Homo sapiens: one gene and its partners. The protein of the gene in region 5 purifies or fractionates together with the protein of the main gene of each other region. This does not show direct contact. Each region holds a gene or a part of one and is shown on either strand. Other genes may lie near its edges. The genes, in order: ACP1, NEK9, LONRF3, GTF2H2C and PRDM11.

What was found.
Region 1: the proteins of PRDM11 (region 5) and ACP1 purify together in Homo sapiens (affinity purification with mass spectrometry; one large-scale study listed by BioGRID and IntAct). This does not show direct contact.
Region 2: the proteins of PRDM11 (region 5) and NEK9 purify together in Homo sapiens (affinity purification with mass spectrometry; one large-scale study listed by BioGRID and IntAct). This does not show direct contact.
Region 3: the proteins of PRDM11 (region 5) and LONRF3 purify together in Homo sapiens (affinity purification with mass spectrometry; one large-scale study listed by BioGRID and IntAct). This does not show direct contact.
Region 4: the proteins of PRDM11 (region 5) and GTF2H2C purify together in Homo sapiens (affinity purification with mass spectrometry; one large-scale study listed by BioGRID and IntAct). This does not show direct contact.

The regions. Positions count from the first base shown.
Region 1 is NC_000002.12:271,447-277,546, reverse strand, and holds part of ACP1 (low molecular weight phosphotyrosine protein phosphatase), read right to left. Parts: intron 5,682-6,100; coding exon 5,608-5,681; intron 5,511-5,607; coding exon 5,397-5,510; coding exon of another isoform or gene 5,242-5,396; exon of another isoform or gene 5,066-5,241; intron 2,408-5,065; coding exon 2,346-2,407; intron 568-2,345; coding exon 462-567; intron 321-461; coding exon 243-320; 3' UTR 1-242. UniProt on the Homo sapiens protein: Acts on tyrosine phosphorylated proteins, low-MW aryl phosphates and natural and synthetic acyl phosphates with differences in substrate specificity between isoform 1 and isoform 2.
Region 2 is NC_000014.9:75,105,430-75,111,529, reverse strand, and holds part of NEK9 (serine/threonine-protein kinase Nek9), read left to right. Parts: intron 1-1,158; coding exon 1,159-1,209; intron 1,210-1,652; coding exon 1,653-1,845; intron 1,846-4,042; coding exon 4,043-4,187; intron 4,188-4,827; coding exon 4,828-5,028; coding exon of another isoform or gene 5,029-5,064; intron 5,065-5,533; coding exon 5,534-5,580; intron 5,581-6,100.
Region 3 is NC_000023.11:119,004,164-119,010,263, reverse strand, and holds part of LONRF3 (LON peptidase N-terminal domain and RING finger protein 3), read right to left. Parts: intron 4,144-6,100; coding exon 4,029-4,143; intron 1,139-4,028; coding exon 1,017-1,138; intron 1-1,016.
Region 4 is NC_000005.10:69,591,978-69,596,843, reverse strand, and holds the end of GTF2H2C (general transcription factor IIH subunit 2-like protein), read right to left. Parts: intron 4,766-4,866; coding exon 4,646-4,765; coding exon of another isoform or gene 4,633-4,645; 3' UTR 1,623-4,632; downstream 1-1,622. UniProt on the Homo sapiens protein: Component of the core-TFIIH basal transcription factor involved in nucleotide excision repair (NER) of DNA and, when complexed to CAK, in RNA transcription by RNA polymerase II.
Region 5 is NC_000011.10:45,151,782-45,157,881, reverse strand, and holds part of PRDM11 (PR domain-containing protein 11), read right to left. Parts: intron 1-6,100.

The DNA of each region.
Region 1 (6,100 bases), on a different chromosome or scaffold from region 5:
TTCAACTAGTCTAAGAATGCTTAAAATACCCCATAAGCTGTCTGAATCAAAGATTTTTATTGATTCTCCTGCCAAACACAACTGATTTCCATCTACAATTACTTTTTAAGGTAAGAAACAGTAAGTCAACTGAACAAAGAGCTGGGCTTTGGGCCCTGGAACGTGATTACACACCGACTGAGAAATGCAGGACCTCAGGGTGGGGTCTAGTCAGGCTGGCCGCAGCAGGGCACGAACCTGCCTCAGTGGGCCTTCTCCAAGAACGCTCTGCAGCACCTGACACACTGCTGGTACACCGTCTCAAAGTCAGAGTCATTCCCCTAAATGGACAGGAAAAAGAAGAAAATGGCAAAACCTGCATAACAAAAACATCCTTAACACAATCTCATCTGTTATTTAATATGGCAGGATACAAATGTGTTGGGTCTTCATATTAGCCCTAAAACGTGAACTGTACTTACATAATAGGGATCTTCAATAATAAGTTGTTTTTGTGGATCATAGCTCCCAAGTAGTTCAATTTTAGCTTTGCAGGTTTTAACTTGATTACTTTTTCTATTCAAATCTCTGTAAAATTGAAATATGAACTTAGTTTTCTGATCTATGGTTTCAAGTTAAACAGGGACATCTGCTAGGGTGTTCTGAAACATCCATATCAAAATCAAGACAGAATGACCTAATTTGAAATGAAACGGAACACTCAGCAGGCCCGTGTGGCCCCTTCTGCAGCTGTATGCCACTGCCCTCTCTCTAGGCAAGACAGTTTGCGACAGCAGCTTATTCTCACTGATTCTGTTACACAAAATATACAATAATTATATTTTCTCCCACAAAATACATTTTAAGACAATCAAGTTTCAGAGATAAAGGTCATAGAAAGGAACCCAAAACACCATCTGAACCAGTCCCAAAACAGAGGGCTACCAATTCCATCCTCAGGTGTCTTGACACAGCACTTCCCACAGCACGACCCACTCCTTAATTACTCTTCCATCTTTTATTCCTTAAGCCTCTGCCCAAGCTGAAAACTCAGCTTCACTCTAGACTTCCACCCTTAGCTTTCACATTGCTACAAAAGAAAAAGGCAAACTTAACTAAGCGCCTCCATTTATTTAACAAATTTCGACTGAGCACCTGCGACAGATGAGTTGATGAGTCAGGTACGTGCTTTATGTGGGAACGGAACAGCCAAGAGCTCCCATGCACGAAGTTTTACAGCTCAGGATTAGGTGCAGGAATGAGAACTGCAGGCAGGCCTAAGTCTAATGCACAATCTGGCCTAATGACAGGGCAGCAGAATACCTCTATCAAGAAATGAATTTAAGCTGACCCACGAGGGGCAAATAGGAGCCGAATGACCCAAGAAGCAAGGAGGAGCTTCCAGGCAGAGGAACAGCACGTGCAAATGTGAGGCTGCAGGAACTCCACTTGCCCCACACGCAAAGAAACACGGTGCTCAGTGCCAGTCAAAGCAAATGGGGTCTCCTAAAAAGGTGTTTTTACGATGCCTATGGGCTATGGTGTCAGCAAAAACAATGAGAACAGAATAAGGACTGAAAAATAAAAATTAAAAAATACATGCATTTTAATGAAGGTCCTAATTAATAAAAAATAATTGAAACTGGTGCATCCCTATCTGTTCATTTGTACAAAAGTAATTAAAAGCACAAATAGTTTATCTTCATCAAAAACATGAGATATTTATGAATAAGTAGTGATGCAAGTCAGAATCCTGGAGTGACATTAAATTATGATCCGTTCCCGATGACGCCTTGAACATGGGACTGGGGCAGGTCAGGAGGGTGGTGACTGAGGCAGGGGTGCATACAGCAGGGCCCTTCCTCACTGAGCCTAGGCTTAAATCCCATGACATCCACCACATGCTAGCTGTGTGAACTCGGGGACATAACCTAACATTACCGTTTCTCACTTCCTTCTTTTACAAGATGGGATAATAATAGGAACCTATGGTTGCAGAGCTTTGACCTGAGAATCAATAAAACACTGCCCTGCCCAGGAATCATTACAGCAAAAATATCAAAATCGTTCTCATGCAGAACAATATGCTTGATACAAAACTATAACAGCCAAGCTAGTTTTCCAATTAAATCATGCTATTAACAACTAGACTTTCCCTTTTCTAAGGTGTATTTCCTTGTAAATACCTAAGAGACAATTCTAGATTACTAAGTTTTTTGCTGTTCTAAATAAAATAATTCTACATATGGTGACCATCACTGACTATTAAAACCTTTAAAATAGAAAAAGTAAATCTGGACAACAAATTACTTGGCCCACTGCTGAACTGAGAGTTGAACAGAAATATTCTTCAAAAACAGGATTACCTCAGATTGCTTTCATCCATACATAGTATATAATCAAATGTGGCAAAATCTTCTTTGGTAATCTAAAATTGAATAAGAAGTCAAAACACAGTGTTTATACCATTCAAGCCTAGAGGATGCAAAGCAATACTAAAAGAAAAAAAAAACTGCTGTATTTGAGCCTGTTACTCACTAATAAACAATTAAATAATTTTTAGGGTACTTTTAAGTTAAAATAGAGTTAACCTATTTCTCAAAATTGTACTGCAAAGAAATTTTGTATTATAAAGTTCCATACAATAATCATAAAATAGTATAATGTGTAGACACAATGTTTATACATCGGCTTCAATTCCTTAGTAGCAGTGTATAATACAGTCAACATACTAAAATGTCACATATTTAATCCCCTTCATTATTCTACTCTATTTTTCATTCCACAAGCACTGAACATCCTGGGCCCCAGTAACAAACACCAAGCTAAGTGGACAGAGCCGCGTCCCATGGAGCTGCCCTTCCACATGGGGGCAGGCAACACACAGGAGGCACAGATGCCCTGGAGGAAATAAAGCAGAGAGGAGATACATACAGCTTTGGGGCAGGGAGGAGTAAAAGTATTAAGTTGGGTGGTCAGAGGTGGTCACTAAGAAAGAAACACAGGAGTGATAACTGACAGTCCTCCTTTATTTTGATTGACTATCCATAATTTAAACCTCACACAGAAGAGAATGCCACTCAGTATTTCTACTGATTGTAACCTGAAAGCTTATGATTGTTTTCTGATATAATCTATAAACACACCTACTTAAAATACAAATGAAAAGATTATTTTGTGAATTTCGACTACTATAAATAATGGCAGAATAAGAAACATAAACATACGTACTGCGGAACAAAGGTGGAAAGTGTATACCTGTTCTTCTAAAAAATGAGAAACTTTGGCTTTTAGTATGCACTTCCAGTAGCTAGAAAAGACTGTATTTCGTCAACACTCCCATGACATTGACTTATTTCAAAATTGAGAATAAGTACAATACTGAATTTTTTCTTTTTGTTTTTAGAGAAAAGGTCTCACTCTGTCACCAACACTGGGGTACAGTGGTGTGATCATAGCTCACTGCAGCCTCAACTTCTTGAGTTCAAGCCAACCTCCTACCTCAGCCTCCCAAACAGCTGGGACTACAGGCATATGTCATAGCACCCAGCTAATTTTTAAAATTTTTTTGGTAGAGATGGGTCTCACTATGTTGCTCAGGCTGGTCTTGACCTCCTAGGCTCAAGCAATGTTGAGCCTCCCAAAGTGTTATTAGGATTATAAGTGTGAGCCACCATGCCTGAACAGTATTATATTATTTCTCCAAATTAGTTATGTGAGAAATTCCCTAGGATTTAATACTAAACTTGTTTTAAATTCTGGACTAATTGTAAATTTTTCATAAAAAAAGACTTAGTAACTGTTACATAATTTTTAGATGTTACAATAATTGAGAAAGAAACAGCTATAACTTATGTAACAAATGCACAATAAAGGATTTCCACTTGCAGCTATAAATGAAACAGCTTGTGGCAAATCACCCCTACTACTAAAAACAACTAGAAACGCCATATAAAAAACCAGTGCTGCAGAGACAGTCGGGCTTTGTGGCCACCAGGCCGCTCTGGCTGTGCTGCTCTAGCACAAAAGCAGCCGCGAACTACAGGTGAATGAGTGAGTCTGGCTGTGTTCCAACAAACACTGTTCATAAAAAAGGTGCCTCAAAAAAAGGTGCAGGCCCCAATCTGCAGACTCCTGCCACTTGCCACTTCTCTTCCTGCTAAAACTGGAAAGTGATGAGACCTCAGAACAGGGATCTCAAACGGTTCAGTAGCAGAACTCTTGAACTCTGTAAAATTATTTAAATCCTATGTTATGGTTTGGATGTGTCCCCCAAAGTTCCTTTGTTGGAAACTTCATCCCCAATGCAACAATAGTGAGACGCAGGATCTTTATTAATGCCACTATCTTGGGAGTGGGCTCCTGACACTGATGGGTCCTCTCTCTCTCTCTCCTCTGTTTCCCTCTTCCCGTTTTTCTAGTTCTCGCTCTCACTCACTCTGGGGCACTCTCTTGACTCCTCCACCTTCTACCACAGGACGATGCAGCAAGAAGGACTTCACAGCCCCATGAGCCCCTTGGCTTTGGACTTCTCCAAATAAATGTATTTTCAACAATGGCCAGTAGAAACTGGCAAGGTATGCAAATCCTGAAGAGATGAGGATGGATAAATTGTATAAAAATGTTGAATCACCTGACCAATGAAGATTCCATTTCCGAAAAGGTCAGTCCCAGAGTACTTCATTTAAATAAAGAACTCTTAGAAAAATCAACTTTAGCTTCTAATTCATAATATAAAGACAAGGTTATCTTCAATTGAAATTGCAGAATTTGATTGTGACTTTATTAGACTCCAAACTTAAGTGTGGCCCAATAGACTATAATTATATATCCATAATGTTGCTGGTATTACCCTATATTACTAAGGCACTTTACAGTTGAAAAAATGTTTTTGTATATATTATATAACCTCATTCTAGCAACAAACTTGCAATATCAGCAGGATGATTACTATGGCCTAAATGTTTAATAAAAATTATGCAGGAAGGAACAGAAGACAGAGCACCGCTCAGCCCCAGCTCACAGTCAGGCTCTCTCATTATAAATTACCTAGCTTTTATGTGCATTTTAATAAGTAAATTCCAAAGTCAGGCAAGTCTTTCAACACCGTGCAACCAGAAGTGAAACAAAATGGACACACCATAGCTGGTTAAGCTCACCCTAAATAAACACATTCATTAATATACAAGTCTGGTTAATCCTTTCGCTACTTCTCAAGTTACTGGACTCTATATATTAGAAATTGAACAAGAGCTTGTCTACCTGTCTTGCTTTATGGGCTGTGTGAATGCCATGATTTCTTAGGCAGCTCACAGCTCTTGGGTCTGGGGACCGGCCCACGTTCCAGTCAGAAACAGCACCGCTGTCAATGACCCACTGAAACACAAAACACACAACTTCAAGTCCAAGGACGGTACCTGCCGGGCAACGTGGCTCATGGGAATGCCGTGCCTCTTCATGCAGCTCTGCCCTCGGTAGTCAGGGGGGTTCCCTATCTCATACCCGGAAGTTGCCGCGCTGTCTACCCTCCACTGCAGGGGAAGAAACATGGAATTTTTTTTTTTTTTTTGCAATTTCCTGCCCAGAGGAGTTCAGGTTGGCCTCTTTAAGATAATGAATGGTACTTACATTCTCTGAGATGTTTTGATCGGTTACAAGTTTCCTGAAAACTGCTTCTGCAATGGGTGATCGACAAATGTTACCTTTAAAAAAAGGGAGGGGTGGGGAAACAGGGTTAGGTTGGATGGAAGGGCACATGCCAGCTCCCCTTCTTTACACACCTGACACACGGGGGCTGTGCTATCCCTCAGGAAAAACAAAGGCCAACACTATCCTTTGACGCCTTTGTCCAACCAGTGAGGGTAGACCCTGCTGGAGAACAGCCTATCAGGCTCAAGTTCAGTGATTTGACACCAACCAGCCAAGTACTCCAAGTACAGATGACAAAGATATCAGAAAAACAATTTCAACAAAAATTATTGTTTAAAGAGTTGCTACTAATGATCCAGGAGTGAATCACGAAAATGAAGTGGGTTGCAACCAGCTTATTTTAAAATGAAATACAACAGAATAAAAATAAAATACAGTGGTCTGTCCCTCAGTAGACTCAGGAGCTGGTTCA
Region 2 (6,100 bases), on a different chromosome or scaffold from region 5:
TTTGCCTGCAATACTTTGTTGGAACTTTGTACTTTGATGGAAAACATAAGACAGAGTTTTCCAGACAGAGAATATAGCATAAACAAAATCATAGACACAGGAAGTTGTGGAAAATATTCAGGAAACACAAAATTCTATTTGGCTAGATTAGTGGTTCTAGACCTGGGATTTTTGATGCAAAATATCAGGAGCTTTCAAAAAGTACTGATGCCTGAGCACTACTCTAGGAGCTCAGCTATAATTGATTTAGGTAGGATGACAGCCCTGGGCTAGAACGTGGGGTGCAAACAAAAGGAAGGAAGTCTGGAAAAATAGGTAGGAAATCTTGCATGCCAGGCCAAGAAAATTGTGGTTAATTCAAGAGGTAGTGCAAAAGATAGAGTGGGTATCACATCCACTGTTGAGAGATGGTGGATGTTTGCGAGAGGGCAGTTCACGTGATGAGAGGCATACCTAAGGAAGAGTTATTTGGCAATATTAGTATCTGTGTTAAATTAGTATAGTAAAATGATTAAGACTGTAGTAAGTGAGGCTGATTAGGAGGTATTATCACAGTACAGGTGGGAAGTAGAGCTACCCAGAACTAAGGTGGTGAGACTGGAAAGGAAGAGGTGAGTACAAAAAGTACTATATAGGTAGAATCTGTAGAACCTGAATATTAAAGAAAGGGAGAGAGATGAATCAGAGATGACTGAGGTTTTAAGCCCAGTTGACTGGGAGAATTGGGGAAGGGTGTTGCGGCTAGTTACAGAAATAGAGGAGTCAGAAAGAAAAGCTCATTTGGGAAAAAGCTAACAAGCTCATATTTGGAGATACTGAGTTTGGGAGTCAGTGGGCAGACTAGATGAAGGTGTCCATCAGATACTAAATATGTACATCAGAGGTTCTCAAGGCTCTCTGTTCCAGCCTGGACCATTTCTCAGAGACAGAAAGCAAATGGCCCCAAACTGCTGGCCTTTGGGTATTTAATGAATTGTCTAATGAAAGGACTATATAACTGTTTTGAGTTGTATTGAGGTACTTTGCTAAAAGTATTGTGATGTTGTAGGATGCATACAGTTTATAAGAGGATTAAATCTGTGAAATGTATTAAACAGACACCTTTGCAATATAAAAACCTATTATTTCACTCATGTATCTTTGCTTTTCTTTTGGTAGAGAGATGGAGGAAAAAGTCACTCTGCTTAATGCACCTACAAAGAGACCAAGGTAATGTTCAAGAGACTCTTAAAAACTAATATATCCGAAATTACAACCAGGGGGTTCTTTCTTGAGTGTAGGCATTATTTGATCCGAGGATACTTTGGCATCCTTTCAGGAGCCAGCATCTGCTTAAATGTCAGACAGTCATTTCTAAGAAGAAAGCTATAATTTCACCCTCACACTAAAGTGGCCATCATTACCATGATGAATGTGGAAAAGTGTAGGTGTTATGGGTCAGACTGGAATCTGATCTGGCCAAGCTGTGATGAAGCCCTGAGGCAGGAATTGCAAAGTCTGCTGTGATAGAGCACATTGAAACAAGTTGTCGAGAAAGAACATACTTTCTCATACCATAATTGGCAGTTCTTCTCAGGGAACAGACTGGAAGCATTTTTCTTTGATATTGTTTTTAATGTTAAATGTTCCTTTGTTCTGGGGGTTGTTGGCAGGTCAAGCACTGTGACTGAAGCACCCATTGCTGTAGTAACATCACGAACCAGTGAAGTCTATGTTTGGGGTGGTGGAAAATCCACCCCCCAGAAACTGGATGTTATCAAGAGTGGCTGTAGTGCCCGGCAGGTCTGTGCAGGGAATACCCACTTTGCTGTGGTCACAGTGGAGAAGGAACTGTACACTTGGGTGGTAAGTGAACGCTAAGCATTTTGGAACAGTGCTGTAAGCCTAATTGTTTACTGGGCCCACGATGTCTAAGCATTTTATTAGTTGAACCTATACTAAGGGAGTGGCAACATGGGGTGATGGAATGGAAGCTCTTATAAGAGCAGGGATTTTGTCTGTTTAGTTCACTGATGTATGCCCAGGGCTGGTACATATTAGGTCACCTATAAATGTTTTTTGAATGAATGAATGAGAGAGGGAGAGAAAAATTGAAAGACTCAGGAGACTGGGGTTTCCCATTTACAGCTGGATGATTTCAGACAAGTCACTCAATTACTCTGTTATATTACCATGAGGTTCAGAGCAACTATTACCTGTGAAATAGCTTTGTAAACAAAGGAAGGACTATACCATGTCAGGAAACCCCTGAAGCCCACAGCAGTGATTGAAGATGGCTAGGTATATTTTGTGTAGAATTTGTTTGTTGCCCTCTAGATTCTCCCCTCTCACCTTCCTTAACAAATTGTCTGTGTTTGCTGTCTGTTTCCTTATCTCCCACTCTCTCTTCATTCACCTACAATGCAGCTTCCATCTCTGCCACTGCCACTCAATTGAAACTAGTCTTGACAAAATGACCCATAAATTGCTAAAATAAAACAGATGCTTTTTAGTCCTTACCTAGCTTGACCTCTCGGCAGCATTTGACATAGTTGACCACTCCCTCCTTCTTGAAGCTTTGTCTTTACTTGCCTTCTGTGATAGCATGTTCTCTTGGCTTTCCTCCTGTCTCTTGCTATGCGTTCTCAGGCTCATTTCAGGCTGCTGGAGAGAAATTAGTATCTTAAACATTTATTGGCTGGGCGTAGTGGCTCACAACTGAAGTCTCAGCACTTCGGGAGGCCAAGGCGAGTGGATTGTTTGAGGCCAGGAGTTTGAGACCAGCCTGGCAAACATGACAAAACCCCATCTCTACTAAAAATACAAAAGTTAGCTGAGAGTGGTGGCGCATGCCTGTGATTCCAGCTACTCAGGAGGCTGAGGCATGAGAATCACTTGAGCCTGGGAGGTGGAGATTGCAATGAACCAAGATTGCACCACTGCACTGCAGCCTGAGTGACAGAGCAAGACCTTGTCTCAAAAAAAAAAATATATATATATACTGTCACACACACACACACACACACACACACACACGCACACGCACACACATATATATATAAAATATGAGGACTTGTAGTATACTCATTTAATAGAATTATTTTTCTCTATAAAACTGTTGAAAAGGCCAGACATGGTGGCTTACACCTGTAATCTCAAAACTTTGGGAGGCCGAGGCGAGTGGATCACCTGAGGTCAGGAGTTCGAGACCAGCCTGGCCAACATGGCAAAACCCCATCTTTACTAAACATACAAAAAATTAGCCAGGCGTGGTGGCGGGCACCTGTAATCCCTGCTACTTGGGAGGCTGAGGCAGGAGAATCGCTTGAACCCAGGAGGCAGAGCTTGCAGTGAGCTGAGATCGAGCCACTGCGCTCCAGCCTGGGTGACAAGAGCGAAACTCTGTCTCAAAAAAAAAAAAAAAAGTTGAAAAGTCATCAAGGACTAGTCTCATTGCTGTATAGCAGCCTCTTTGATGTAGCCAGATTCTTTATAACTCTTCCATGTTTCAGGGAAACTGTGACCAAAATTTATGAAACTTCTAGTACAGATTTTCAAGAAGCTATATTCCTGTAGAAAGCAACAAAGTTAGACTATATTATAAAGAATTTTTTTCACCATCACCTGTAATTAAATATATAGTTTACCTTAGACTTGAAGGACAAAGATTAGATTAATGGATATTAATCTGGATACTTTTTAAGTTTTCTTTACCTGTTGGCAGGATCTGTATACTACTTGCTATTAAAATGTTTAATCCCTTTGCCCATTTTTTTCTAATTTCTAAATTTCTAGCTCTTTTTTTCTACTGTTTTTCTTCATATGAAGTTCCATTAAAGATCAGCTTTTGGCATGAAAAATTAAAACTTCATAAGACCTCTCAGCCGGGGATGGTGGTTCATGTCTACAATCCCAGCACTTTGGGAAGCCGAGGCAGGAGGATCACTTGAGCCCAGGAGTTCAAGACCAGCTTGGGCAACATAGCGAGAACCCATCTCTTTAAAATTTAAGTTTAATAAAATGTAATTAAAAAAAAAAGTCATAAGACCTCTTTATTTCACAGAACATGCAAGGAGGCACTAAACTCCATGGTCAGCTGGGCCATGGAGACAAAGCCTCCTATCGACAGCCAAAGCATGTGGAAAAGTTGCAAGGCAAAGCTATCCGTCAGGTGTCATGTGGTGATGATTTCACTGTCTGTGTGACTGGTAAGCCATCAGCAGAAAGTGTCTTAAGTGCATTTAATGTGGGGGTATTTTGCTTAATGCTGTGCAATCTTAGTTGGGATTTTAAAACAAAAGACAGTATACAAAGAACCAGAGGACCTTGAGCAAATATACTCATTAATAATAACATACCAAATTTGCTATAGTATTAGGGGGTGGTGAGCAAGGAGAAGACAGGTGGGTAACAGAGAAGAGGTGGGATCAGGAGAAAATGTGTGTCGTGGTTGGCAGGAAAAATAATCTTACCACCTCATCAGGCTATGAATAACACAAAATTAGGATCAAGACCTAAGTTTAGTTTTGGTCTTGTCATTACTTAGTTAATGATTCCTTGGGACTTATTTTTTTATCTATATAACAAAGATGGCCCCATTAAAATTTTAAGTCCTTTTAATGTGATAATGCTACCACTTTTTAAATTGTTTAATATAGTAGTAGTAGTACACATGACTCTCTGACATAGAACTCTAGACTTGCACAGTCTGTCCTTTTAATTTCTTGGATATAATCAATTCATGTGAGATCATTTGCTGGGGTAGTCCTCATTCCAGCCCTGCCCAACTTTCTGATTAGATAAAATAAGTCAGTCCTTTGATGGATTCTGTTTTCCTTTCTTTTGCAGATGAGGGTCAGCTCTATGCCTTCGGATCAGATTATTATGGCTGCATGGGGGTGGACAAAGTTGCTGGCCCTGAAGTGCTAGAACCCATGCAGCTGAACTTCTTCCTCAGCAATCCAGTGGAGCAGGTCTCCTGTGGAGATAATCATGTGGTGGTTCTGACACGAAACAAGGAAGTCTATTCTTGGGGCTGTGGCGAATATGGTAGGGGTAGCCTTGTCTCTGTCCACTTCTTCACAGGTATACAACCTGACTTCAAAGTTGTATGCATCTAAACCCATCATGCAGCCCCTAAATGAGAAGTGTTAATTCAGTAAATCTTTTTTTTTTTTTTTTTTTTTTTTCTCGAGACAGAGTCTCTCTCTGTCACCCAGGCTGGAGTGCAATGGCATGATCTGGGCTCATTGCAACCACCACCTCCCGAGTTCGAGTGATTCTCCTGCCTCAGCCTCCCGAGTAGCTGGGATTACAGGCACACACCATCACACCCAGCTAATTTTTTGTATTTTTAGTAGAGATGGGGTTTCACCACACTGGCCAGGCTTGTCTCGCTCGAACTTCTGACCTCATGATCCACCTGCCTCGGCCTCCCAAAGTGCTGGGATTACAGGTGTGAGCCACCGCACCTGGCAAAAGAGAATCTTACAGAACCTATTCACTGGGAAGGAAGCCCTCATTATAATGATTTTCATTCTTATGTGTGTTTCAGGACGACTGGGTTTGGATTCAGAAGAGGATTATTATACACCACAAAAGGTAAAATCAGAAGCAACTTATTTCTAAAACCTATCTTAAGTCGCACAGACTCCAATAATATGTCCTCTTTCCTTGGCTCTGTTGTATCAAGGTATTTATTTCCGAAGTGTTTCCTGTTTGGGAGACTGACAATTTAGGATTCCTGATTTAGCACCCTGTGGTCTTGTCATCTGACCAAATCACAGAAAATTGAGAAAGTGGATACAGCGACTGTGGACATTGTGAAGTCACATCTTACTCAGGGATGACAGCTAAAATCAGCGTGTACAGCAGAAAAGTCACATATAGCTACAAATACCCTGGAAAACTCGAGAAGATACTGTAAAGCAGTATACTGTCTCTTAACCCAACACAGCCATTTTCCTCTCCTGTTTCTACAGTTGACCACCAGATGAAATATTAATAGTTGTTTTTGTTTAGCGGTCATGTTGCATGAAACATATTATCTAATTACTCTCAGCCTTGCCAGAGCTGGCCCTGTGAGAGGCTCACAGAGGCTGATACCAGCTGGGGGAAAAGC
Region 3 (6,100 bases), on a different chromosome or scaffold from region 5:
TTCTGCTAAGGGAGCTGTTCTTACAGCCAGGCAGAGTGCTGAGAGCCTCAATGACGCCTCTGCCCCTCCCCTTCACCTCTCACATTACCTGTGCACGGCAGAGAAAGCGCTTGACAAGTATTAGTATTATTACCATTAATTAAGTGCTTACTATGCACAAACTCATTTGATTTTCATAAGAAGTCCATGAGGTGGCCAGGCATGGTGGCTCACGCCTGTAATCCCAGCACCTTGGGAGGCCCAGGTGGGAGGATCACTTGAGTTCAGGAGTTCAAGACCAGCCTGGCAAACATGGTGAAGCCCTGTCTCTACTAAAAAATACAAAAATTCGCTGGGCATGGTGGTGCATGCCTGTAATCTCAGCTACTCGGGTGGCTGAGGCAGGAGAATCGCTTGAACCCGGAAGGCGGAGGTTGCAGTAAGCCAAGATCGTACCACTGCACTCCAGCTTGGGTGACAGAGTGAGACTCAATCTCAAAAAAAGAAGTCCATGAGGTAAGAACTCAAGTTATTAAATTATTCTCAAGCTACAGATAAGGAAACTAAGGCCCAGAAAGGTTAAATGACCTGCCTAGGGTCGTGAAGTAGACTCACTTTGAGGTAGAACTGGGTCTTAAGCCCGGTTCTGGTTGACACCAAAGTTCTTAACCTCATAGCAACTCCTTATGTATCTGAAAACAATCTTTTGGACATTTCGTTAAGTTCCCCTGTTTATGCTACTCCAATTTACTCTTGCCAACAATACCCTGTTACTGGGGGCAGGGCGTACCCTCATCACTGGTTTCGCTTATGCTTCTTCAGTGGTATGCTGGTATGTTTAACAACTGGCTCTCTGGGTGCAGCGGAAACCCTGGTTTGTAGCACTTGCCAATTTCCATGGTGTAAATACTCTCACCATAGCCAATTTCAAGCAGCTAGCATGACATCACTAAGTCGGAAGCTGGGAAGTAATGTGCACATTCAGCTCTCATTGAGCTGGTATGAGTGAAACAAAACAGAAATATGCATATACATACTTAGAAAGTTCTTCCATTTCCTCTTCATAAAGCTTCCTTCGTTCCTTCAGTTCTTCTGGAAGGAATTTAGCTATGAGCTCCTCCATTATTACATTTTTGCTGTATTTTCTTGATGCCAAGCACTACATGGGGGGAGGCAATTAGACAATATGCAATTAGGTAATACGTAGCAATCAGCAAAACACTTCTGATGTAATCAGTGAACAAGTCAAATGACCCACATATTGGAGTAATCTGGACCCACAAATTAGCAGCTGTTACCATCATAATATATGTATTTTCTGGATGTTAGTTTCATTTAAAAAAACACACATGCAATTGATTATCTTTATAATTAGAAAAAAATTTTTAACAAGGGGGTAAAACCTGCATTGAAGTTTTAAAACTCTCACAGTTTTTCTGAAACACTGAAATCAAGATCATGTTCTTGTCCAAAAAGTAGGGTGGGGGGAATTCTTCCCTTTCCATTTTCTGATGATTGTATTTACAAGCTCACAGAAATTGTCTCCATCTGGGATATGCTCAAAGTTAGTGGCCAAAAGTTTCAGGGAACTAAAAAGCAATTTTCAATCACTGAACCTTTCCTGCCCTGTCCCACTCCCAGCCTAACCCAATGCTTGGCTTCTGGATATTGCCAAATATACCTATTTTTTCTCTTTTAATTTTAGTTTAAAAAAACACAAACAGCTAAATATTGATTTGTCTATTTGCCTTTCTAATATACCATCTAGGTATCACTGAGATTAAAAGTCATGATTTCAAGAACTGGACTCAGGCTCAATTGTCACTGTTACTCTCCTCCCAAACACCCCTGTCCGATGCATACCCAGGGATGTTTAGGTAGTGGGTATTTAACGGTGTGAATCAAACAACTGATGTTAAAACATCTGCAGAGAATTGCTTGCTATGGAAACTACCCCTACAGTCCCAGCAGGGGGAGCGCCTGAGTATAAAACTGTTGGCTTCAAACAATTTTGTTCCTTTCTCAGTATGGGCTGTGTCTCTATTCTGCAGTGAAAATGATTGGAATATTTAATTCTATGTAAAATGGTGCAAGTGTGACCCTATGTGAATAAACAGAGATAGATGAGAATATCTTCTAGACCCCAAGTCCTGAACTCTATAGCATCTGTCTCCAGGATGCCTTATCTGCCACTGTCACTGCCATTGCCTGGCTATGGGAAAATCAACTGCATTTCCCAGTCCCAGTTGTGGGGGATAAGCATTGACTGAGGAGGTAGTCAGTCTAAAAAGTAGGTGACTCCTCTGCTGATACTAAAACAAAAAGCCAGAAAAGGCACATACTAAAATGTTAACTAACAGTGGTTTTCTCTAGGTACTGAGCATATGGGTAGATTTTTCTTCTTTCCACTTAATCTGAATTTTCCAGTGCTACAACAACACAGATGTATTATTTCAGTATAAGGATCAAGGACTTCTCACCTACAATCAGGCCTGCAAATCCTACAACTTTATCCAGGGAAAGGTATGACATTGACCCTCCTCCCAATCCCAACGCATACCCTCAGGGCTACCAGTGATGATGATTTCACTCCATTCCCTTAATTTAAATACTGGGGTGATGGTAAAGCTCAACATGTGACTTCTCTTGACCTGTAGTCACCTAGAGATAGCCTTGCATCTCCAACCTCTCCTCAGGAATGACAGGGGTCAAGGAACATTAACACCGATTGTAAAATGTGGCAGATAAGTCCCTGAGGGAGGGAAAACAAGATAGATTCTCAGGTCTTCTTTATCTGTAGGAAATTCCTTCAGGTTCACTTGAAAAACAAAGGTGGGAGTTTGTGTGATTAGTTTTAGAGAACCTGGAAGTCCTAGAGGGCTGCGGTCTGCAAAAGCTCTAGGGCTTCCAGGTACAGTGGCTCCTGATGGGTTGGACAAGGATCACACTGAAGTTCTGTGAGGTTCTTCTGGGGCCTTTGGAGCTGTTATCTTCAAGCCACAGAATAAACACTGATGATAAGGGAACATCAGGGCTTACCTAGTCCAATCCTAGAGGGGACAAAAGATTTACTCAAGATTACAGTGTATCAGGTGCCACGATGACATTAGAACCAGGATCCAAGTTTATCATCTATTTAATACTTTCGTTTCCAACACAAATTAATTTCCCTACTTACACTGCATAAAAAGCTGCATGTTGCCTCATTTTCCTGAAGGACTTTATGGAGAGGGGGACAGTGGCTATAAGACAGGAGAAATAGGCTGGGCGTGGTGGCTCATGCCTGTAATCCCAGCACTTTGGGAGGCTGAGGTGGGTGGATCACCTGAGGTCAGGAGTTCGAGACCAGCCTGACCAATATGGTGAAACCCCATTTCTACTAAAAATACAAAAATTAGGCCGGGCGTGGTGGCTCACGCCTGTAATCCCAGCACTTTGGGAGGCCGAGGCGGGTGGATCATGAGGTCAGGAGATCCAGATCATCCTGGTTAACACGGTGAAACCCCGTCTCTACTAAAAATACAAAAAATTAGCCAGGCGTGGTGGCGGGCGCCTGTAGTCCCAGCTACTCGGGGAGGCTGAGGCAGGAGAATGGCATGAACCCGGGAGGCGGAGCTTGCAGTGAGTGGAGATCACGTCACTGCCCTCCAGCCTGGGCGACAGAGCGAGACTCCGTCTCAACAAAACAAAACAAAACAAAACAAAACAAAACAAAAATTAGCCGAGCGTGGTGGCATGCGCCTGTAATCCCAGCTACTTGGGAGGCTGAGGCAGGAGAACTGCTGGAACCCAGGAGGCGGAGGTTGCAGTGACCCGCGATCACGCCACTGCACTCCAGCCTGGGTGGGAGAGTGGAGACTCAGTCAAAAAAAAAAAAAAAAAAAAAGAAGACAGGAGAAATAGATGGTTTGAGGGAGTAATGTGCCCTACCACAGTGCCGTGGCTGGGGGTCCAGTTGAACACTGTCTTAGTGCCCAATTCCAAATAAACTAAACAAAACAAGAAAGAAATACTGATTTAAACCAAACAAGAAAGAAATATTGATTTACCTGTGAAAGACCGTCTTTGCACAATGGACACTTTGCGTTGTGATCTAGGCATCTTTCTAGGCATTTTAAGCAAAAAGTATGCCCGCAAGGTGTTGTGACTGGCTCATAGAATAATCTGAAATTTAGGAATCAAAATGGAAGAAAACTGCAATAAGACCAAAAATAAAAGAGTGACTCAAAGCTAAGTTTTTAAAGCATTATTTAGAATATTTTAGGGTGGGGGAGGAGTTCTTTTTAAAAAGTCGCTATTGTTATACTTCAGATAAACATTTGCCTTTCATTTTTGAGCTGGATTAAAATACATTTATTAAAGTTTAGGGCATAGCTAGATCATTTTGTAACATCAATTCTAGTCTATCTCTTCTGGGGAATTCAGATTTTTTGCCCTGTCTGGTCCAAGAAAAATAGAGATTAATGCACAGAGTGTCTGGATAAATTCCATTCCGAAAATATTTAGCCAACCTGTTCACCTGAGTATATGTAAACACACACACACAAACACACACACACGCACACACATTCTCTCTCTTACACATTTACCCATTTAAGCACTTTACATCATATTACCATGGAAAAAAACCGTTTGCTAACCTTGATTCCTCTTTTCGTCTAAGCAATGTTAATGCCTGAAGGATATCAAAATTGTACCTCTAACAAACATAACTGCCTTTTATATAGATAATTTTCATAGGGGCAGGAGAATAGTATTGTTAGTGTGCTTACTGATATAGACTAGATATGGATCTATATTGATGCATATACACACATATATACATACATTTACATGTGTACATACATATATATACATACATATACTTCAATTTGGTACTATTTTAATTGCTTGGGGAGAACAGGATATTTTCAAAGCAATGTGGGAATCCTTTTATAAATTTGTTCTGTACCTTCAGAAATTAATGGATTTGCTTTGCTTAAAAAAAGGCTCACCTGCAGCGAGATCAGTGAGTGAGGGTAGCTGAAGATGACCGTTGAGGAGTGGGGCTTGCACTCACCAAGAGGAGCAGCACAGGAAGAAGGGAAAGACCCCTGCCTGACCAGCCTATTTTCACCTCACAAGAGTGTTCAGTGGAGAGTCAGAGGCTGCCAGCTGCACGGCTCCCTCGTGTGGCCAGGAGGTGCACCAGCAGCCTGGCCAGCACTGCCAGACTGAGTAGAAGAAGCAACATGCCAGCTGAAAAGTACTTGAGAAGAAACTGAACCCACTAACTAGAATGAACCTGAGGTCCACAGGGGTTGAAGTTACTTGTCTAAGTGCGCACAGCCAACTGTTGACAGATGAAAGTCTATCCAACTTCCACTTCAGTCATGTGCCTTTTCTATTACAACAATAATTCTCAACCATTGCTGTGCATCAGAATCACCTGAACAGCTTTATCTTTAAACAGCTTTACTGATGCAAAATTGACATAAAATAAATGGAACAGACGTAAAGTGTACAATTTGATAAGTTCTGACATATGTACACACTTATGAAACCATCGCCACAATCAAGATAGGAAACATACCCATCCCTCCCAAATGTTTCCTCATGCCCCTTTGTAAGCCCTCCTTCCTGCCTCCCCCAGTCACCTGGGGAGCCTATGAAAACTCTAGATGCCCACTACAGCACCTACAGAGATTCAGATCAGTAGGCCCAGTGTACAGGACAGGCATCAGAAATTTTTTTTAAGCCTCCCAGTGGTTTTAATGTACAGCCAAGATTGAGGATCACTGTGTTACACAATCCCATTAATCTCTGCATAGGCAAACTTACTGTATTGGTCTTCAAATATCAGTTACGTGTGGAGCAAAAAAACCCATACATTGTGAAGCTCCACTGGCTAAAGTTCCAGATTCAGCAGGTCAAGGAGACCAGCAGAAATGGGATATTTTTAACAAGCCAATGGAGGTCTGGAGGAGGAGAGAGACTTTTCATGTATTCAACTTTTTGGTACTTTTTGAATTTTATGATTCTGTTTAAAAAGTAGTTAATTTGTTTAACAAATTAATTAAAACTAATAAATTTTAGTTATCAAATTGGCCAAAAAGCAAAGTTATTTAAAAAAGAAAAACTA
Region 4 (4,866 bases), on a different chromosome or scaffold from region 5:
CTGAGGTGTGACGCAAATAGCAATTCAGTCAGGTGAAATCAATAATTTAGATCCCATCAGGATCCCAGCCGAGTCCCCAGTCCATCTTGTAACACTTCTCCCCAGAACATACTTAAATTACCTGGAAATAATGAATCCTCTGCCCTTACAGAACTGGATCCAAAGCAGGCACTAGGGCACTCTAAGACTACTTCTCAGAAGTGTGACAACCTCCTGTACCCTTTTTCTCCTTACTACAGGGCCCAAGGACTGAAACTTCTTACCTTTTCTCCTAAACTCTGCCACCCACTAATGGCCTCAGGACTGGGATTCCACTAACCCACTCCCCAAGGGCTGATTGCACCCTTTCTTTGTCACCACTCATGAAATCATTTCATGCTATGAATTGGCCAACCGTTCTAGAGATATAGCTGAACACAGACATGACCAGAAACATGAGGAAGTTATAAAGTATTGAGAAATCCTTCTAGAAGTAGATGCAATGCCACACCACTGAGCACGAGATCTGGCTTCCTGAGCAGTTACCAAAGGACGAGATGACACAGCCCTGTGGGCAAACTAGGATCAACGGGAAATGGAAGAACTTAGGAAACTAAGTTACTTCTCCTTCCTCCCTTCAATGGACTGCTCAGAGGGGCAGTTTCTCCTTATAAACCTTCTGGAGAAGCCCCACACTCTAAGTGAACACACTTGCTGGAAGGCTCCTGTATCTCGTCACAGCTTGTCATGAAGCCTGGTCACTGCAGTAACACAATGCATCACGTTTTTCCTTGCTTTGCTTTCCCTTTTCTTCCACACTCTCACCCCCCTAGATCTGTCCCTCCCTAATAAAGTAACAATACTTTCATCTTTGCCTCAGGTTCTACTTCCTAGGGGACCTAAGTTAAGAAATTCTTGTTGTTGACCAGGCGTGGTGGCTCACGCCTGTAATCCCAGCACTTTGGGAGGCCAAGGCAGATGGATCATGAGGTCAGGAGATCGAGACCATCCTGGCTAACACAGTGAAACCCCGTCTCCAGTAAAAATACAAAAAATTAGCCAGGCGTGGTGGCAGGCACCTGCAGTCCCAGCTACTCGGGAGGCTGAGGCAGGAGAATGGCATGAACCCGGGAGGTGGAGCTTGCAGTGAGCTGAGATCGCGCCACTGCACTCCAGCCTGGGCGACAGAGCGAGACTCTGTCTCAAAAAAAAAAAAAAAAATTCTTCTTGTTGTAATTTATTGTTGTTGCAATTTTTGTTTGTTGTAATTTCTAGGGTAACCACTGAAAGAATAAAAACAAAGTATACAATTTTCAAACTAGTGACGAAAAACATAGAATGGTAGAAAGTAAGTAATCAAAAAGAAGGCAAGAAGGAAAAGATCGTATCAAATATGTAGTTAAAAAAATTTAAAAAAACGAAAGATGGAATTGTTGGAACCAATAACACAAAGATAATAGACTTAAACCCAAATATATCAGTGGTAATCTTTTAATAAATATTTATATTTATTATATATATTTATATATTTTAATATATAATATATTAAAATATATATTATATATAAATATATATAAATATATAAATATAAATATAAATAATATATTTATAAATATAATATTTATAATAAAATATATCAGTGGTAATCTTTTAATAAGTAAATATATTTATTAAATATAAAAGGTACACAGTAAATATAAATGAACTAAATGCTTTAGTTAAAAGACAATAAAAATTATGAAATAAAAATGTATACACTTGAAAGTATTTAAAATAAATCTAATTTTCATAATGAATTTTAAGCATTAAGGAGTTTTGTAACTGAATAGTGGAACTCAGAAAGACATCCTATTCAGAAGGATCTCTCATGATAATAGTTTCCTTCACTATTGTAGTATACTGTAGAGTTTCAAGAAAAAAATTAAAGGCCAAAACTGTCTTACATTACCATTGCTGTTTCTGCAATCTTCAACAAACCAAAATTTTCTCTGTAATTGTGAAAAAAGAACTCCTCCTTAAGCATAACTAAAATTTTGCCTTAACCTTATCAAATACCCAAAACTGTAGAAAGAGATAAAGCTGTTAATAGAGACATGGGTATCCCTTTTTATCAGGTCAGGAGGGTAAGTCTCTAATAGAGAGTTCTAGTAACTTCTCAAAAGGTAACTAATGAAGGCCTTCCTTCTAAACCAGATAGGGGGAGATAGAATGCTCTGAGTATTAAAGGCATCTCCTGCAAGCCACTGATACCTTTGTTGACAGAGCACACAGAAGAAAATAGCAGTTACCAGGTTACCTATAGGTGAAATTTGTTTCCACATAAAGAACCACTGGGTCCAGGCTCATGGAGTATGACTCCTGAGAGAAACTCCCGTTACTCTGATCAGTGTGTGTGTGTGTGTGTGTGTGTGTGTGTGTGTGTGTGTGTATTAAAAATGAATATTCCTGGGCTCCCAATAAACTCTCCAGGGTGGGATTACGTTGTCTTTACTGATAATGTTCTTAACTAAAAATTCTTAGTTATAAAATCACAAATTTCGGCCGGGCACGGTGGCGGAGGTGGGTGGATGACCTGAGGTCAGGAGTTGGAGATCAGCCTGATCAACAAGGTGAAACCCCGTCTCTACCAAAAATGCAAAAATTAGCCAGGCGTGGTGGCAGGCGCCTGTAGTCCCAGCTACTCAGGAGGCTGAGACAGGAGAATGGCTTGAGCCTGGGAGGCGGAGGTTGCAGTGAGCCAACAGCAGGCCACTGCACTCCAGCCTGGGCGATGGAGCAAGACTCCATCTCAAAAAAAAAAAAAAAAAAATCACAAATTTCATAGTGAAACTCAAGTTAGAGTACCTGAAGTTTATATACATAAAATAGACATACCTTTGCTATGAAAGCCTGATTTACTCTTTTTTTTTTTTTTTTTTTTTTTTTTCTTGAGACAGAGTCTAGCTCTGTCGCCCAGGCTGGAGTGCAGTGGAGCGATCTCGGTTCACTGCAAGCTCCGCCTCCTGGGTTCACACCATTCTCCTGCCCCAGCCTTCCGAATAGCTGGGACTACAGGCGCCCGCCACCAGGCCCAGCTAATTTTTTGTATGTTTAGTAGAGACGGGGTTTCACCGTGTTAGCCAGGATGGTCTCGATCTCCTGACCTCGTGATCTGCCCGCCTCGGCCTCCCAAAGTGCTAGGATTACAGGCGTGAGCCACCGCGCCCGGCTGAAAGCCTGATTTACTCTTAACTGGATATAACCAGAAAGAGTTCTGCCCACAATGATATATCTGCATTGAATCTAAAACACAGACTTCATCATACATTCTCACCTAAATTTCTCTGATGACCCAGAGTAAGGCAAAAGGTTTAGCATATGAGAGTGAAAGGATTTGAATCTCACTTTCTGTCAAACTTTAGAGCTCTGTTAACCATGGTTAGTATCAACTATGATTTTAGGCAACTTTGCTTATAGTAAAAATAACTCGTTAATTGTTACGTATCTGGATTGGGATGCACTATAAATAAATGGAGTCTTCAAGCTTTAGGCTTTCCTGAGTGTAGTGACTCTTGAAATTGACACATCCCTTGTGGATACCTGGAAGCTGTGTTTATGGAATTGTTAAGAGATATTGGTTCCTTGATGCCTGTGGAGGATCTTATCTCCTTGCACCCAAATTGTACTAGTGGACTGCTACAAGGACTTCCACTGCTAATGAGGACTGCTTGATGCTGTGCTGGCAGGCTGTTGTTTCTGTTTAATATCCTTCTGAGTAAGCGGGTACCAAGTATGGCCATGGCAGTCTTGTGAGTTTGAATGTTTAATGTAAAGTGACTTCTGTTGGTCATAGCCACAAATAATTTCAGATGTACTAACTTGATAAACATATTCCAGATGTTTGGTTAAACCTAAAAAGACCTCTCTGGTGGATGTAGCAGTACATCATTTCATATGTATTAATTTCATAACTTTTTTTTTTTTTGAGAGGGAGTCTTACTCTAGGGTGGAGTGCAGTGGCACAATCTCGGCTCACTGCAACCTCCGCCTCCTGGGTTCAAGCGATTCTCCTGCCTCAGCCTCCCAAGTAGCTGGGACTCCAGGCGTGAACCACCATGCCCGGCTAATTATTTTTTGTATTTTTAGTAGTGACGGGGTTTCACCATGTTGGCCAGGCTGGTCTCGAACTCCTGACCTCAAGTGATCTGCCCACCTCAGCCTCCCAAAGTGTTGGGATTACAGGTGTGAGCCACAGCGCCCAGCCTAATTTCATAAGTATTGATAAATTTTCATCTTACACTGAATTTACATTCAGACTTAACTTTCTTCTTACACTAAATTAATGAATTAACATAAATCATAAAGATTCTATATTTAATTATAAAAACATAAAATTATCACATCAATTTAATTCTTATAAGTTTATACATACTGCATAATGACTTTGAAAACAGTATAACTCAAAATAATAGAAAACAAAATTAATTGAATGAAGTACTACTGAATTTCAGGTATTTCTGTGACAACACAAATTTAAAATTTAATAAAATATTACCTTTTCTTAGCAAAAAGTTTCTTAAGTCAGATTATCCTTTCATGTTTTAAATGAAGCTTCTTCTAAAGAAGTCCTTTTATTCACAGTTGCAAATTTCTTTTTAACACATACAATGTATACTACATGCTGGAATCAAACACCTGAAGGAGCTGGAATCTTATGAATACAGCCAGGGCAACAGTGTAGAGAATCATGAACAAAAACATCACAGTCCACACAGAAAACATTTTGGCACACAGCACAAACATAAACCTGTAGTGAAAAGAAGAAAAGTGATAAACTAGTTTCCAAAAGTTAATTACAGCACAGCTAGATGACATTCAAGGTGTGCTTTGCTCTTTTATATCTCTACC
Region 5 (6,100 bases):
CCCTGAACACGGCTCTGGACTGTACCCCAAACTGTACCCAGCACCCATTTGACAGCCCACCAGTCCACGTTCCTGCAGCTCTAGTAGGGCAGGCAGTGTGGACAAGAGAGTTCTGCCATGGCCAGCCCATGACCCCAGGTGTGACCCCACCAACCAGGCCAGCCTGGAAAGGCCATGCTGCTCACACCCGAGGGCTGCCTGCCCATCAGCCAGGACCGACTCAGGGGACAAAGAGAGGCCTGTGCATCAGCAACCTACTCCACAAGACACAATCGAGGAACAGCCTTCTGGGAGGTTGGCGGTGGAAAGGAAGCATACACCTGGATGGCCTCTTTGGTCCTCTAAGGCGTAGGTCCCCAACCCCTGGACCACGGATGGGTACTGATCCATAACCTGTTAGGAACCAGGTTGCAGAGCAGGAGACGAGTGGCAGGCGAGCTAGCAAGCATTAACGCCTGAGCTCTGCCTCCTGTCAGATCACAGGCAGCACTAGATTATCATAGGACGCGAACCCTACCGTGAACTGCGCATGCGAGGGCTCTAGGAGTGTGCTCCTTTGAGAATTGAACGAATGCCTGATGATCCGAGGTGGAACAGTTGATGATCTGAAGTGGAATAGTTTCATCCCCAAACCATCCTCCCCGACCCCGTCCATGGAAAAATTGTCCTTCATGAAATGGTCCCTTGTGCCCCAAAGGTTGGAGACCACTGCTCTAAGCCACCTACTCAGCCATGGCCACCTCAAGTCCACTGCCACCTGGACAGAGTTTCTGTGGCGCAAAGCTAACTACTTCTCTCCCCTGCTTACAAACCACCGACAGCTCCCCCGTGCCTCCAGGGCAAAGTCTCAATTCCTTCACACAGCATTCAAGGCCCTCCCGGCCTGGCCCTCACCTGCCTCTCCCCAGCCAACTCCACTGCTTCTCTAAACACCCATGACCGCTTGCCATTCCTGAACCATGGGGTCCTCCTGTTCCTGCCTTTGCACATACTGTTCCCAGTGCCTAAAATGCCCTTCCCTCTCCCTCCGCCTGGCAAACCCCCGCTCCTCCCTCAAGGTCCAGCTCATCGTCACCTCCTCTGGGAGGCCTAACCAGATCCTCCCTCTCCACCTCCAGGGCGAAATGACTTGCTCTCCTCTGCCCCATATCCATGAGCAAGCCAGGCGCATCCTACCTTCAATCCCAAGACCCAGGCAAGAGCTGCTCAAGAAATTTGAGGTGAAGTGACTTCTTTACTTTTTAAGTTTTCCAATCTGATGCCAACAGATATTTTTGTGAAATAAAATTAAAAATGATGTGGCAATGTCAAGTTGCCAAACAAGTTTCTCAAGGCTTTCTCTCAAAGTCTGCATGTCTCTCACCATACACCCATCCAGCACAGCTCAGGATGGGCAGAGGTCTGCGGACCACGGTCTCCATTGCCTGGCAGAGCCACTGTGCTCCCAGTGTTCCAAGAGGAACCTGGTGCAGGGCCCATCAAGAGTCAGGTGTGTACGTCTGGACCCCAGAGCACAAGGGGCCGCTCCATGAACATCTGCTGACCCAGACAATGGATGGGAAGGTTTGAAAATGCTGTAACATGGCCGGTCCTTATGCTAGGCATCCCCATTCTTCAAGTGGCCGCATAAAGGCACAGAGAGGGTGACCTGCCTGAGCCACAGTGGCTCATATGCTGTACTTTCTTTACACTGCCCATCATCTCAGGGGAAGGAACTTGGAATCTGTAAGTTAGCCATCCAAACTCCTGCCCAGCATGGATGGCTGACCTTATCTCCCACTGCAGTCCCAGCAAGCCAGTCCCATGCTGTGATAAAGAGCTCAGACTCTGGAATCAGACAGACCTAGGTTCATATCCTGGCTCAGCCTTTCATAGCTGTGTGACCTTAGGTGAGTCACCTCACTTCTCTGGGCCTCAATGTTACCTCTGTAAACTGCACCTAATAACACTAGCATCATGGGACAGCTATGAGGGTTGAATGGAACATGCCCGTCCACACTCATTTGGGCTCGGCTGTCGCTGATGTTTATAAAAGGCCCAGGGTCTGGCAGCCAGACACTCTGCCCTGGATCCTCCTTTTCTGCTTGCTCTTCTGGAGACCCAATATCTCCTCTCTGGGGTCAAGAGAGACTGCCGGTTTCCCTGGCTGCTAAGCTTGCTGATTTCCCTTGAGGACTTCACCTCCCTGCCCTCTGCCTCCCTCAGGCTAAGGGGCTTTTCCTTCCTCCCTCTCCACCCCTCCTTGAGGCACCCCTGCACCCCCTCTCCAAATGCAAACCCCCTCTGGCTGGTCTTTCTTTCTCTTGGAACACAGCCGGCCTAAAGAGGGGCACCCCTGGCCCCTGGGAAAATGACACTCTGTTTGGGTTGGAACAGTAAAGGGCTGTGAGGTCAGGGACAAGCCCCAGCCAACCACCTCCCGGCAACCCCCAGAGCCCGCCCTCTCTGTACCTTGGGCCATGACGGTGCTGAGTCCGCCCTGGCTGGGTCCCAGTTGGCTGCTCCCAAGAGAAGCTCACTTCCTTCTGGGGCTGAGGGTCTGGTGGGCTCCTCCCCATGCCCCTTGGCCATCGTGGAGCCTCCCAAGCCGGCCATCTCCATCCCCTGGCATCGGGCAGCCAGATCCTTTCCTGGCCCTCACCCCTTTCCCTTGGGGAAAGTGAGAGATAGTGGGAGAAGCCACTCCGGGAAAGCTGACATTGTGGGGGCGGTTCCATATTTACTTGCTCAGTGACGTCCATACCAGCCCAGCTCAGTGCCCTAGTCAAAGTGATCCTCCTGCCTGCTGGGCCCACTCTCGCCCTCAACTCTGACACAAGCCTGGGGGAAGGCGCCCACCGGCCACTACCCCCCTTTCTACCCCAAGCTCCTTCCAGCCACACTCCCTGCAGTAGCTGGACAATCTCTCTGTTTGGGAAGCAGGGTACAGAGGCTACAACAACACTCTCTGGGGTCCCCATTCTGCTCTGATTCCAGAAGGACTGGGGTGCAGAGGAAGGGGTGCTAGATTTGGGGTTAGAATGTTAGCTTGGTTACTTCCTAAACTGTATGAGCTCTAAGTCACTTCCCCTCTCTGAGCCTCAGTTTTCTGAGCTATAAAATGGGGGTTTTAAGAGCCAACCTGCCTGGGCTAGTGATCAGGGATCGGGAGAAGGTGCAGTTGGGAGGAGGAGAGTTCTGGTTGCTCTTATGGATCGGATGAGGTAGGGGAGACAGGACTGGAAGGGAAAGCTCTAGAAGGCACTGAAGGCTCCAGAGGCCTGGGGTGCCTCACTTTGCAAGCAGGGACCCCCCTACCACTAGCACCAACCCCTGATCTAAGGCTGCTGCTTGGGAGCAGGATGGGCAGCAGCTATCTGCCCCCACCCCTACTCCACTTCCCGTACCCAGTATCATTTCAGCGGAGGCTCCGGGTCTGTTTGAATGTGTCCGCAACTTCTGACCTGTGAGGTTCCTGGGATGGGGAGAAGGTCTGAAACCAACACTCTATAAATCAAATCCTACTTTTATTGATTTATTATTTTTTGAGACAGGGTCTCACTCTGTCTCCCAGGCAGGAGTACAGTGGTGCGATCTCAGCTCATCACAGCCTCGATCTCCCAGGGTCCAGTGATCTTCCCGCCTCAGCCTCCCAAGTTGCTGGGACTACAGGCACACATCACCAAGCCCAGGTAATTTTGTTCATTTTTTGTAAATACAGGGTCTCACTATGTTGCCCAGGCTGGTCTCAAACTCCTGGACTCAAGCGATCCTCCCACCTCAGCCTCCCAAAGTGCTGGGATTATAGGCATGAGCCACTGTGCCCAGCCCAAATCCTATTTTTAAATCACCCAAGAAACCTTCTGGGAATTATTATGTAATACAAATAGGCAACCTCAAAGACTTCCTTTATCAATGTGGTTTTCTTAAGAAGATTGGAAAAATGAGATGATAGCTGTGTGATCTTCAGTTGGTCATGTAACCTCTCTGAGCCCCAAGGTTCCTCATCCATATGTGGATGCGGGAGTAACCTCACGGGGCTGTTGTCAGTGTCCTGGTGCTCCATACATGTTCCTTCTAGGTGTTTACTGCCCCAGAGATAACAGCACCTTAAACTCAGTCCTGCAAACACAGAGGAAAAAATCTTCCACAGAATGTAGGGCAGGACTGATATTACTGAGTCCATTTACAGAAAGGAAACTGAGGCGCAGTTAAATATTTGGCCTTGAACACAAGACAGTGGGGCACCATGAGTGTCTGAGGCTGTGGCCAGATCACCTTTAAGTGCAGATATGCTCATTGTCTTGTATTCAGGCACTGCTGTCCCATCGCCAGCAAGAGGCATGAGAGGACCCCCATGCCTCCCCCATGTCCACTGGCCTCACACCCAGGAGATGGCCCAAGACTGGCCCTAAGCCATTCACTGGTGCTCCGTCTTTCTCCGGAGCTGTCCATGCAGCCCTTGGAGGCCAGTAGTGGCATTGCCCCCGTTCTGCAGATGAGAAAATGGGTAACTCCAAGAGGGACAGCCTCCTGCTCAGATCTCACCGCTATCTGGTGCCAGAAGCAGGACTGAACCTGGGGCCCACGCCCTCTCCAGGGAACAGTGTGGACCCCACCAGCTGGCTCCCTGGCTCCTTCTCAGTTCCCTTTCCCTGCCAAGGGACCAGCCTAAGGCACTTTGCTGGATTTTATCTGCGGGTCCCCTCGCTACTCAGAAGCAGAAGTCAGGCACACTCGGGGAAACAACTGGCCTCCAGAACCAAGCCCCAACCCATCTGCTCTGACCTTCGCTGTAGAGGGCCAAATTCCCCTACTTTTCCCTGGGAATGGTCACTCTCAGCTCTCACCTTCATCCTCTCCTACCTCAATTACTACGAAAGCCTCTTATTTGGCCTCCCTGCCTCCAGCCTTATGCCCAAGCCACTGCTGTTTTTCGGAACATGGATCTGATCACCATGTCAGCTTCCTCCTCATAAAACCCTCTGAGGCTCCCTGTGGCCCAACAGACAGATTGTAAACTCCTCAGCACAGCAGTCAGGACCTGTTACAGCCTAGTCAAGGCCAAGTATCCGGGTTAGGCCGGAGGGCTCAGGAATCAGGTGCCCTGAGTTTGAATTTCATCACCAACTGTGAAACTGTGGGCAAGTGATGCTACCTCTCTGAGTCTCAGTTTCCTAAACTGTAGAATGGGGAAATAACAATACCATGATCAGGGCATCGCTGTGAAGATTTAAAAAGACAAAGCAGATAAAGCACTTTGAACACAGTAAGTGCTCAATTAATTCACTCATTCCACAAGTATTTGAGGCTCTAGTTACCATATGGCATATACTATTCATACAGCAGTGAACAAAAGTAACAAAAAACCCAGCTCTCTGGGAACTTGCATTAAAATGATGGGAGGCAGACAGAAAACAAAATAAAAAAGTAAAACATGGGGCATGGGATAAGTGCTATGCACTAAAAAGAAAAAAGCAGGAAGCAGAGAGAGGGTGTTGGGGTGGGTTGCAATTTTAAACAAGAAAGTACCCATGGCCAGGCCCGGTAGTTCATACCTGTAATCCCAACACTTTGGGAGACTGAGGCAGGTGGATCACTTGAGGTCGGGAGTTCAAGACCAGCCTGGCCAACTGGTGAGACCCCAGTCTCTACTGAAAATACAAAAAATAGCCAAGTGTGGTGGTATGTGCCTGTAGTCCCAGCTACTCGGGGGCTGAGGCAGGAGAATCACTTGAACCCAGGAGGCGGAGGTTGCAATGAGCTGAGATCATGCAACTGCATTCTAGCTTGGGTGACAGAGTAAGACCCTGTCTCAAATAAATAAATAAATAAATGTGCCCATGAGAAGGTAGTATTTGAGCAGAAGTCCTGGGGGAGGCAAGGGGGCATGCCATGGAGATAACTGGGGTAAGAGTGATCTAGGGAGAGGATGCAACCAATGCCGAGGACCAGGATTAGTGTTACTCATACTATTATTGTTATTTTCTTTCCAGCCTCATCCACCTCCATCTCCTCCCCTTACACTTACTCTCTACCCGAATGAACTACTCAAGCCTCCCCAGTCCCTTACATGCATCCATGCTTCTGGACAAGCCATGCCCTGGGCCTGAAGCCTCTC